Homo sapiens: one gene and its partners. The protein of the gene in region 1 purifies or fractionates together with the protein of each later gene. This does not show direct contact. Each region holds a gene or a part of one and is shown on either strand. Other genes may lie near its edges.

Evidence for each region.
Region 2: the proteins of ZNF207 (region 1) and FBXL18 fractionate together in Homo sapiens (co-fractionation; one large-scale study listed by BioGRID). This does not show direct contact.
Region 3: the proteins of ZNF207 (region 1) and SRSF11 purify together in Homo sapiens (affinity purification with mass spectrometry, with the first as the bait; one study listed by BioGRID). This does not show direct contact.

The regions. Positions count from the first base shown.
Region 1 is NC_000017.11:32,353,031-32,356,680, forward strand, and holds part of ZNF207 (BUB3-interacting and GLEBS motif-containing protein ZNF207), read left to right. Parts: intron 1-3,650. UniProt on the Homo sapiens protein: Kinetochore- and microtubule-binding protein that plays a key role in spindle assembly. ZNF207/BuGZ is mainly composed of disordered low-complexity regions and undergoes phase transition or coacervation to form temperature-dependent liquid droplets.
Region 2 is NC_000007.14:5,479,305-5,482,954, forward strand, and holds part of FBXL18 (F-box/LRR-repeat protein 18), read right to left. Parts: intron 2,628-3,650; coding exon 2,471-2,627; 3' UTR 1-2,470. UniProt on the Homo sapiens protein: Substrate-recognition component of the SCF (SKP1-CUL1-F-box protein)-type E3 ubiquitin ligase complex.
Region 3 is NC_000001.11:70,241,832-70,245,481, reverse strand, and holds part of SRSF11 (serine/arginine-rich splicing factor 11), read right to left. Parts: intron 799-3,650; coding exon 667-798; intron 1-666. UniProt on the Homo sapiens protein: May function in pre-mRNA splicing.

The DNA of each region.
Region 1 (3,650 bases):
GGGTGTGGTGGCATGGGCCTGTAATCCTGGCTACTGGGGAGGCTGAGGCAAGAGAATCATTTGAACCCTGGAGGCAGAGGTTGCAGTGAGCTGAGATGGTGCCACTGCATTCCAGCCTGGGCAACAGGGTGAGACTCTGTCTCAATAATAATAATAATGACAATAATTTCTAGGTTTTTAAAGTTCTTTTAATAAATAGCGAGAGCATTGTAATTTATATTTTTTAAGATCTAGTAAGTACCTTCATGTCTCATTCAACATTATTCTACTTTGCTTAGTCCTAGAGCTGTCTGAATTTTTGCTAAATTAGACCTTACAGAAATATGAGATGAGCAAATACCAAATCATTGGAAACTACTATGGGTGGGAGGTAGGGAGACGTGATTTCTCCAGGTTTAAAGATAAATTTATATAGATCCTTTTCACTCCAGATACTTTAACAATAATTTAATATTCATTTTAAAATGTTGACCAGATGTGGTGGCTCACGCCTGTAATCCCAGCACTTTGGGAGGCCGAGGCTGGTGGATCACCTGAGGTCAGGGTTTCAAGACCAGCCTGACCAACGTGGTGAAACCCCATCTCTACAAATACCAAAAATTAGCTGGGCATGGTGGCAGGCACATGTAGTCCTGGCTACGGGGGCGGGGGGAGGGCTGGGGGCGGGGGGCGCGAGGCGGGTGCTGAGACAGGAGAATCACTTGAACCCGGGAGGCAGAGTTTGCGGTGAGCTGAGTTTGTGCCACTGCACTCCAGCCTGGGTGACAGAGACTCTGTCTCCAAAAAAAAAAAAAAAAAAAAAAAAATTGTTAGAGAACCTACTACATGTTAGACTCACAGCTGTTCACTGTTGCAGCCATTAGTTACATGTGGCTATTTAAAATGATATAAATATCTAAATGCTCAGTTTCTCTGTCAAGTAGCTAACTTATATTGGGTAGTGTGGATAAGAACATTTTGTTTTGATTGATTGACAGGGTCTCATTCTGTTGTCCAGGCTGGAGTGCAGATCATAGCTCACCGCAACTTTGAACTCCCTTACTCAAATGATCCTTCCACCTTAGCCTCCTGAGTACCTGGGACAACAATTGTGTACCACCATACCTGGCTATTTTTAAAATTTTATTTTTGTAGAGACAGGGTCTCACTATGTTGCACAGGCTGGTCGCCCAACTCCCAGGATCAATCGATTCTCCCACTCGGCCTCCCAAAGTGCTGGAATTACAGTTGTGAGCCACTGAGCCCGGCCATTTTCTTTAATTCTGAATGAAATAGGGGTTTAAATAGAGATGTATGCTCTGTCAGTTTTTTTTTTGTTTTATTTTGAAACGGAGTTTTGCTCTGTCTTGTGCTCACTGCAGCCTCCGCCTCCTGGGCTTAAGTGATTCTTGTGCATCAGCCTTCCAAATAGCTAGGATTACAGGCATGCACCACCGTGCCTGCCTGAGTTGTATTTTTAGTAGAGATGGGGCTTCACCACGTTGGCCAGGGTGGTCTTGAACTCCTGGCCTCAAGTGATCCCATCTACTTTGGCCTCCCAAAGTGCTGGGATTACAGGCATAAGTCACTGCAGCTGGCCTCTATTAGACTTTTTTTTTTTTCTTGAGACGGAGTCTCTTTCGTCCAGGCTGGAGTGCAGTGGGCGTGATCTCGGCTCACCGCAGCCTCTGCCCTCCGGGTTCAAGCAATTCTCCTGCCTCAGCCTCTCGAGTAGCTGGGATTACAGACGCCTGCCATTGTGCCTAGCTAATTGTTTTGTATTTTTAGTACAGATGGGGTTTCACCATCTTGGCCAGGCTGGTCTTGAACTCCTGACCTCCTGATCCACCTTCCTTGGCCTCCCAAAGTGCTGGGATTACAGGCGTGAGCCACTGCGCCCAGCCTGTAAGACTTTTTAAAAGGATTTTTCTGGCTGCAGGGTTGAAAGTAAAGTGCAGAGTACGGTGAGACCACTTTAGAAGACTTAGAATATTCCAGACAAGAGGAGATGGTGACAGAGACCAGAGTTTGATAGGTTAGATATGGGGTATAAGAAAAAGTGAGGAGTTAAGGGTGGTCTCAAGATGTTGATCTCAAGATGGTCTGGCTAGGTGCGGTGGCTCACGCCTGTAATCAGCACTTTGGTAGGCCGAGATGGACTAATCACTTGATCCTAATAGTTCGAGACTAGCCTGGGCAATATAATGAGACCCTGTCTCTACAAAAAATGCAAAGTTGGGCATGGTGGCACGTGCCTGTGTCCCAGCTACTCAGGAGGCTGAGGCAGGAGGATCGCTTGAGCTGGGGAGGACGAGACTGCAGTGAGCCGTGATAGCACTACTCAGCTCCAACTTGGGCTACAAGAGTGAAACCCTGTCTCAAAAATGTTTATTTTGAGCATATGACGAGATGTGAAAAGCTACAGGGATAATAGGCTTAAGAATGAGAATAAGGGAGTCCTGTGTTAATTTTGAGTGTAGGTATGTTTGAGGTCTATTAAATATCCAGATGAAAAGGTTACCGAAGCAGTTTGATGTACAAGTCAGGAGTTCATAGAAATTAAAACAGGAGATAGAAATTTGGACGCATACAATGTAAGGGTGGCTAGTTTAAGCCGCGCTACCAGATGTCCTTTGTAAGGACTGTAGTGTGGTTGGAAATTAGGTGCTCTCTGCTCTAGGCCACTTCCAACATTTGAAGGTCAGGAGATTAAAAGGAATCGTCTAAGGAGATGAAAGGTAGGAAAACCAAGAGTAGTGCCCTGGAAGTCAATGACGTGTTTCAAGGAGTGAGTTATTTAACTGAGTCAAATGCTGGTTCAGTAAGAGTACTGAGACTGGGTTAATAAGGTCATTGGTGACTTGACAAAGAGCGATTTCCAAGAGTGGTGAGGGTGAAGTGTGATTACGGTGCTTTGAAGAGACAGGGAGAGGAAGCGAAGGCATTCTTAGGGAGTTGCACTTTATGAAGAGCAGAGAAGTGGAGTGGAAGCTTCAAGGTTAGTTGAGAAACTTAGTAACATTATTGTCTGAGTGCCTTTATTTAGTCCTATTTTCACAGCAACCTGTGAGATAGACCTGGCAGTTAAATCATACCAATTTTATAGATGATAAACCCTAAGACATTATTAGTAAGTTAGGTGGTTCCCTGCAGTTTCTCATCAGTGCTTGCTCCTGTCTTTTCAACCAAGACGCTATGACTTTGCTTGGCAGGGTCCCAAGAAATCTAATTCTGGCTGTACCATAATAGATACACCTTTAATTGTTGCCCTTCTCAAAAATGTAGTGAAGATTAGTGTGTATGTGAATGTAATTGTTTATAGAATGCCTGTTGCATCATCTCTTTATTAAGAATAGCAAAATATTCCAAAAAACCTTAGGAAACGGCAATTAAGTCACTTGTTAAGCCGCTTTATCCATAAATATTTTAATTGCAATATAAGGAATAGCTTTTAACAATCAGATATTAAGATAATTTCTGAGTTTGATTTGCATGCCCCAGTTTCAAATCTTTAAGTGAGATACATTGCTAAGAAGAAAATACTTAGCTTTTTGTAGTTACTTTTCTGTTCGTACATGAAAATGTCTTAGGAGGAAAGAAAAAATGAGTATTATTTGGGCAAATATATCTAAGTCATTAGCCTAAATGAGTGCTTCTCAAACTTGAGCATG
Region 2 (3,650 bases), on another chromosome or scaffold:
GATGCATTCCTGGAGCAGACGCAATTCTCTAGCCCGAGTGGGGAATGTTCTGGAGGAAGGAGTGGGGCGGAGCTGCGGTGCCCAGAGACACAGGCCCCCTGAGGGTCCGGGAACCTCCCAGGCCACTCGCCCCTGCCTGGTCGGAGAGCAAGAAGTGGTCAGTCCCAGGAGGCACCACACCACCCGATCTGATCGCCGCGCCTGGTGGTCTCCAGGTGCCATTTTAAAGCTCTAAAGAAATGCCCAGGAACTGTGGGTGGGGGGGGTGCTCCCACCACCTCTGAGACCCTCATCTACAGCCCCTGCCCCCTGGGGCCGTGGGCAGCTGGTCCTGCGGCCTGCAGACTAGGAGACGGGGCCTAGGGGTGTGGCTCTCACAGGCCATGACAGGAGGGCCAGGAGGCCTCTGGGAGGCGAAGGCTTGGTCTGGTGTGGGTCCCACCATCGGGCACTGCTGGAATCAGCCTGCAGAAGGGTCCCTCTGGCCAGGAGGCAAAGGTTCTGCACTGGGTGCAGCCTGGGGCTGGGAGAGGACCCGTGGGCTTCAGAGAGGAGGCGATGACCCCATACATACAAGAAAGTCAGGGTGAAGTGGGAGGAGACCTCAAACCCCAGATCCACCTGTGCCAGTGAGCAGAGGCGCCAGGGTGGGGTCAAGACTGCCAGGTGGAGAGCTGGGAGGCAGCCTGCACAGGAGGGCTGTACCTCCCCACAGCTCTGACCCCAGTTCTCCAAAGGCCTCCTGGACAAGGAGCTTGGCCCCCAGAGCAAGGAGCTGCTGAAAACCATCCCCACTCAGGGGCAGGGCCGGTGATTGGAGGCCTGGGGATGGTGTACCCCATTTTTTAACAGCAAAGCAAATGTGAGACACCACCCCACAGGACGGGGCATCTGTCACACGGAAACCCAGGAGGAGGAAGGCGGGCTGGACAAGGGGCCCTTCACCAAGAGCGGCCAGGGCGGCGGTCCAGGCTAGCAGGGCCCAACTACAGCCCCCTTTGGAAGCCACTGGCCCAGGGACAGCTCTAGGAGCGCCTGGAGGTGGAGGACGGCAGAAGCGGCCACCGTGGCACATGGGGTGAGGACTCAGATGCCAGGAGGATGTCCTCATTTTTGGAATAACTTTGTTTTTTTCTCTTTCTTTTTCAGAGATGGGGTATCCCTGTGTTGCCCAGGCTGATCTCAAACTCCTGGGCTCAAGTGATCCTCCCAAAGTGTGTTGAATATATATATATATATATATATTTTTTTTTTTTTTTTTTTTTTTTTTTTTTTTTGAGGCGGAGTCTCACCCTGTTGTCCAGGCTGGAGTGCAATGGTGTGATCTCGGCTCACTGCAACCTCCGCCTCCCAGGTTCAAACGATTCTCCTGCCTCAGCCTCCTGAGTAGCTAGGATTACAGGCGCCCGCCACCACGCCCAGCTAATTTTTGTATTTTTAGTAGAGATGGGGTTTCACCATGTTGGCCAGGCTGGTCTTGAACTCCTGACCTCGTGATCCACCCACCTCAGCCTCCCAAAGTGCCGGGATTACAGGCGTGAGCCATCGCGCCCAGCTGAGTATTTTTAAAGTCTTAAATGAAGTCATTTGAAATGGGGTCATGTGATTGCTACTCCAGCCTTAAGAATCCTTTCTGGGTTTTAATGTTTCGCGTTATTCTAACAAAGCCGAATGTGTATCGATTTCCCCAGGAACGCGCATGGACCTTCCCAGGGAAGCTGAAGGCCGTGGGGTGGGTGGGAGGGGGAGGAGGCCTCTCTCGTTAGAAACGGGCCCTGCTGGTTGGGCTGAAAAGTCACAGGAGAGGCTCCAACCAGCAGTCCCAACCTCAGGGGACCTCTCTGGGGCCACAGGCATCATCTGGCTAGAAAAGCCCCAGAGACATGAGTGGGCTCAAGTGTGTCCTAATGGGATGGAGAGTCCCAAGTCTGCAGCCACTAAACTGGCAGGCCCTTCCCCATGTCACACTTGACCATGCAAGGGGACACTCAGATACACGGTGACCAGCCCGGCCGACTGGACTTCAGGGGGACAGCATGTGGCCGCCCATCCACGGGGCCCCGGTGGCAGGTGACCACAAACACAACAGCCAAGGGACACGCTTCCCGGTCGGAAGTGGCAGGGGGTTCGGGCCCTCCAGGCCCGTGGACAGGGCCCCCAGGGATTGCGGCTCAGTATACAAACCCCCCAGCCAGGCCCCAAGGGTCAGCCTGGTTCAGCCAGCCCCCCACATCGACCGTCCCCCGAGCCCCCTCATGTCACCCAGAACGCATCCCCTCGACCTAAACTTCACAGAGCAACAGTCCCCATGAGAGAGCCGTGGAGACGCCGGGAGCCCCAGGAGCCAGGTGGGGCGTGGCTGGCCGGGAGAGAGGCCCCCTTCCTCTTGTGACAAACCAAGGGTCCCTGGCGTCCCAGGCTCCTGCAGCTTCTCGAGGTGACTGAGACCGATGGGCGGCGGCTCCGCCTCTCACCACCACAGGTTCGGCGGTTCCTCGGCCACTCTGCTCTTAAATAAGGTGATCTCATCCAGGTGCACCAGGGGGACGTCCCGGATGACGTCGGTCAGGCCCTCGTGGAGCAGAGGGAAGATGACGACGTTTAACGCGGGCCGCTCGGCCTGGAAGCTGAACCAGAGACAGGCGGTCAGCGGATTACATGGGTGGCCACGGAGGGGGCGGAGCCTGCTGGGGAAGCCCAGGAGGCACTCACACCTGCCTCCCCGTCCCGGGCTCACCTGGGGCTCCCAGACAGACCATGCCTGCCAGAGTCACCCTCTAAGTGCCTCAAGGGCCCTGTACGTGGCAGACAGAGCTGGGGAGGAGCACGGCAGCCGGGAACAGGCCACACGCTTCTCTCCAGGCTCAGGGGGCACCCGCTCCATGCCAGCCACGAGGATCAGAGGCCCCGGAGGCCAACCCTGCTCTGCAGACGTGCTGCTGGGCCCCAGGGCAGCAGAGGGACCCCACTGCAGGAGTGGCAGATCCGAGGCCCCTGGCCCACGGAAGCCCCACGGCCAGGACAGAGAGAAGGGACAGGTGCCCACACCCCACAGCCGCAGGTGGGCCACCTCAAGGGGGTGCGACTGCCAAGTCAGTGAGGCAGCAGCAGTCGCTGGGAGGAGCAGATACCCAGGTGGCCACTCAGGAAAAGCACACGTTTGACCGCATGACAAATGGCAGGTAGGCGACCCCCCCCCAATGCCCCCACCCCCAGGCGACCAGCCCCCGCCACGCTGTGCACGAAAACTCATGCACAATTGCCACGGGGTGCCCACCGAGTGCCAGACGCTGCATTGAGCTCGACAGACATGACCTCATTTTGCCTTCCCCACAACCCTACAACCAACCACAGTCCCCCAGCGGGCCATGAAGCAGAACAGGGACCCCTCCACAGTCAGAGCAGGCCACCAGCACAGCCCTACTGGCCCTCCTAGGCCAAAATGCAATGCAAGTGCATTTGTGGCTTGCCCCTGTAATCCCAACACCTGGGAGGCTGAGGTGGGAGGATTGTTTGAGGCCAGGAGTCCCAGAACAGCCTGGGCAACATAGGGAGACTTTGTCTCTATAAAAAATTTTAAAAAATGAGTCAGGCATGGTGGTGCATGCCTGTCACCTCAGCTACTTGGGAGGCTGAGGCAGGAGGACCAC
Region 3 (3,650 bases), on another chromosome or scaffold:
GTTTGATTCACTCTGCAGCACATAAGGACTAAAAGCCCCATTATTACAGGTTTAACAATGATAGTAAAGCTACCCCCACTCTTCTGTTCTCATCAGTTGAGTTTTATGCTTCCCAAGAGTAAGTTATGTTGTGTCCCCAGCTGTACTTACTTTAATGACATGATTTAACTAAATATATAAATGAACAAAATAATGCCAAATATAGAGTTGCTTCTAGAAAATTAAGATAAATATTTTAGCAAGAGATAAAAAGCAGTTGCTAAAAAAATTAAGTGCTGTGAAATTGTATGCCTCACAACTATAAATGACTGGGGGCATACTAATTTAAAAGTGTTTGGTTCTACACGAAAAGACTGGTTTTTGAATATATTTTTAGATGGAAATAAAACGTTACGGTATTTCTTATGAAAGAAGGTAGCAGGACAGCTAACAATTCCTACTACTAAGAAATTTTACTTAGGCCCTCAGCTGTAAGCTGAAGTTTCAGTTTACAAGGAAGCACCAGAAAGCAAACGTCAGCCTCCTCAAACTCAAATATTGACAGTTTCTTCCCCTGTCTAGCCCTATTTCTCTGCCCCGCACCCCAACCACCTCTTTTGTTACTAAGTAGCACAGTACTAGGGGTACTGGGAACCCTAAAATTTGCTTTCTCACCCAATGCTATACCTTGTTTTTGATGTGCTCCTTGACCTTCTACCTCTTTCTCTGGAATGAGATCTTCTCCGCCTTGGGCTTTTGGATCGTCGCCGACTCCTAGACTTAGAATGTGACCGCCGTCTCGATCTGCTTCTTGACCGCCTAATAGTGTAAAAGGAAGCCAATACATGTGTATAAATGTAAAAAGACTATAAATTTTGTGCTTAGTATCAGACAAAAGATTCGGACATATGGACTAAACAATTAAATGGGGGATAATTCCCTTCCATTTGCTATTATTTAGCCCATAGAACAAACACCTTCAACACCTTAGAAATTAGTAATACCTTTTAACACTTGGAATTCCTCACCTTTTAATGATTTGCTCAACCTGTCAGATAGGTCCTTCTATGCCCACTGTACTTACAACTCCAAGGTTAAAAATACTACTAGATCATGAAGGAGAATAAAAGTATGACTTATTTGCATCATCTTATACAATTATATAGCATTTTAGCATGTATTTCTTATTTGATTCCTCATTAGTGCAGCTTAAACCTTCCTCATCATAAATCAAATACTTATATCACGCTATATATAAACTACAAATTGGTCTCGTAAGTCCATAAAGTAAATGCCACTATTATTTCTATTTTATAAAGAGAAACTACTTATTGTGTTGCCATCTCCTATTTCGAATTTTTCTCTGAAACAAATTCCACTCCTTTAATCCACAATTTAGGAAACTCCAGGCAATGCAGACCTTTTACAGATATATACAATTTGTATAAACTGCCTCTTTTACTCTCATTTTTCCCTGACATATCTGTTTCTCTACTCCCTGCACCGAGCCCCCATCCATTGTGTCCTGACCTGGCTCTTCCAGGACTAAGAAGCACAATTAACCTTTAGATGTTGTCATCCTCCCTACTGCATTAAAACTCATTCTCCTCTATCTTTTAAGCGATGGGGTTTTGCCATGTTGCCCAGGATGGTCTTGAACTCCTGGGCTCAAGCCACCAGCCCACCTTGGCCTCCCAGAGTTGGGATTATAGGCATTAACCACCACAACCGGCCCATTCTCTTCTATTTTAAAAATTAAAAATAAGTTGCAATCCTTTGCTTAGTCTTGATCACTTAACTTTTAGTGACCATTCAACTTCTCTCTGTGCAACATTTCAAATATAGTCTAAATTTTCTGCCTACTTTTCTTTTCAAGGTACAAGAAAGAGTATGGACATCTTAAAGACTTGTGTTAAACTCTCATTTATAAGCCAGGTAACTTAAGAGTATTATCTAACCTCTCTGACCTTGTTACTTCAGCAGTCAAGGATAGTAACACCTCTATCACCAAATAATGACAAAGATTAAATGCAGTATATAGAGTCTAGCTCGGTGCCTTAGTGTAGGCACACACAAGTGACCCTTGAATAACATGAGCTTTAACGGCATGGTTCCACCTACACACTGTGTTTTTTTTTTTTTTTTTTTTTTTTTTTTTTTTTTTTTGCCACCAACCAAATGTGGATTAAAAACAGTATTTGAAGGATGAGGAACCCATGTATAGTCAGGACTGAGTTTTCCTATATGTGGATTCCAGAGGACTTGAGTATGCATGGATTCTGGTATAGATGGATTTGTAACCAATCCCCTGCATATACGGAGGGGACTGTACATTAAATATTGATGTCCTTCTTTCCTCTTACTGATGTACTAATATAGCTTCTGTTGCCATAACTCCCTAAAACAACTGCCTCAAAACCCATAGTAATGCCTCAATAAACTATTTGAGTTATTGAACTCAATTAACTTTAATTTTAATCTCTTATTTTCAGCCATATTTGAAACTATTTACTAAACAATTCCTTGCAATAACATCTCCACATCCTAAGATGTTTTTATCTACTTAACTACCCTACCATAGGCTCCACAAAGACATGGGAAGTAAGTCTTTTCATGACTGTATTCTTGAGCAATTACTACACTGCCTGATTTAAATAAAAGGCACCAATAATATACTTTGAATGAAATATAGGCATATAAAATATCAGAATCATAACCTTAAGAGATTAAACAGTTGTTTTCAAAGGGGAATGTACTACCGTCACTTTTCTACACTTACTAGTTCATATGAGCTTTTAACCAGCAAAAGAGATTAGTGTAACATATTTTTAATAAAGTCAAAAAGCTTGTGAAAGTCATGGTCATTTAACACACTATGTGATGCTTGATACTACAACTGGGCTGGACTCAGTGGCTTGTATCTGTCACCCCAGCACTTTGGGAGGCCGAGGTGGGCAAACAGCTCGAGCTCAGGAGTTCGAGACCAGCCTGGGCAACATGGCAAAACCCTGTCTCTACATAAAAAAAAAAGGTGCAAAAATTAGCCAGGTGTGGTGGTGCATGCCTGTAGTCCCAGCTGCTCAGGAGGCTGAGGTGGGAGGATGGCTTGAGCCTGGTGGGGGTGTGGGGTGTGGGGGGTGTGTGTGTGTGGTGAGGGTTACCACAACCCACAACAATGATTTCTGTTACGATGTATTACAAGTATCTGGATTCAGGGACATATTTCACTTCTACTTTTCACTGGTCATAGTAAAGTAATTAATATTAAAATGAGAGAGTCCCAGTAAGATTTAATATAAAGAAAAAGACACAGGCTCTCCCTTTTTTTTTTTTTTTTAAGACGGAGTCTCGCTGTCACCAAGCTGGAGTGCAGTGGCGCCATCCTGGCTCACTGCAATCCCCGCCTCCGGGGTTCAAGCGATTCTCCTGCTTCAGCCTCCTGAGTAGCTGGGATTACAGCTGCGCGCGCCACCACACCCAGCTGATTTTTGTGTTTTTAGGAGAGACGGGGTTTCACTATGTTGGCCAGGCTGGTCTCAATCTCCTGACCTTGTGATCCTCCGCCTCGGCCTCCCCAAGTGCTGGGACTACAGGCGTGAGCCACCCCACCCGGCCCAGGCTCTCCTTTTTCCTAAGAGTTTGGTAAAAGGAAACACATATAAATTGTAGTA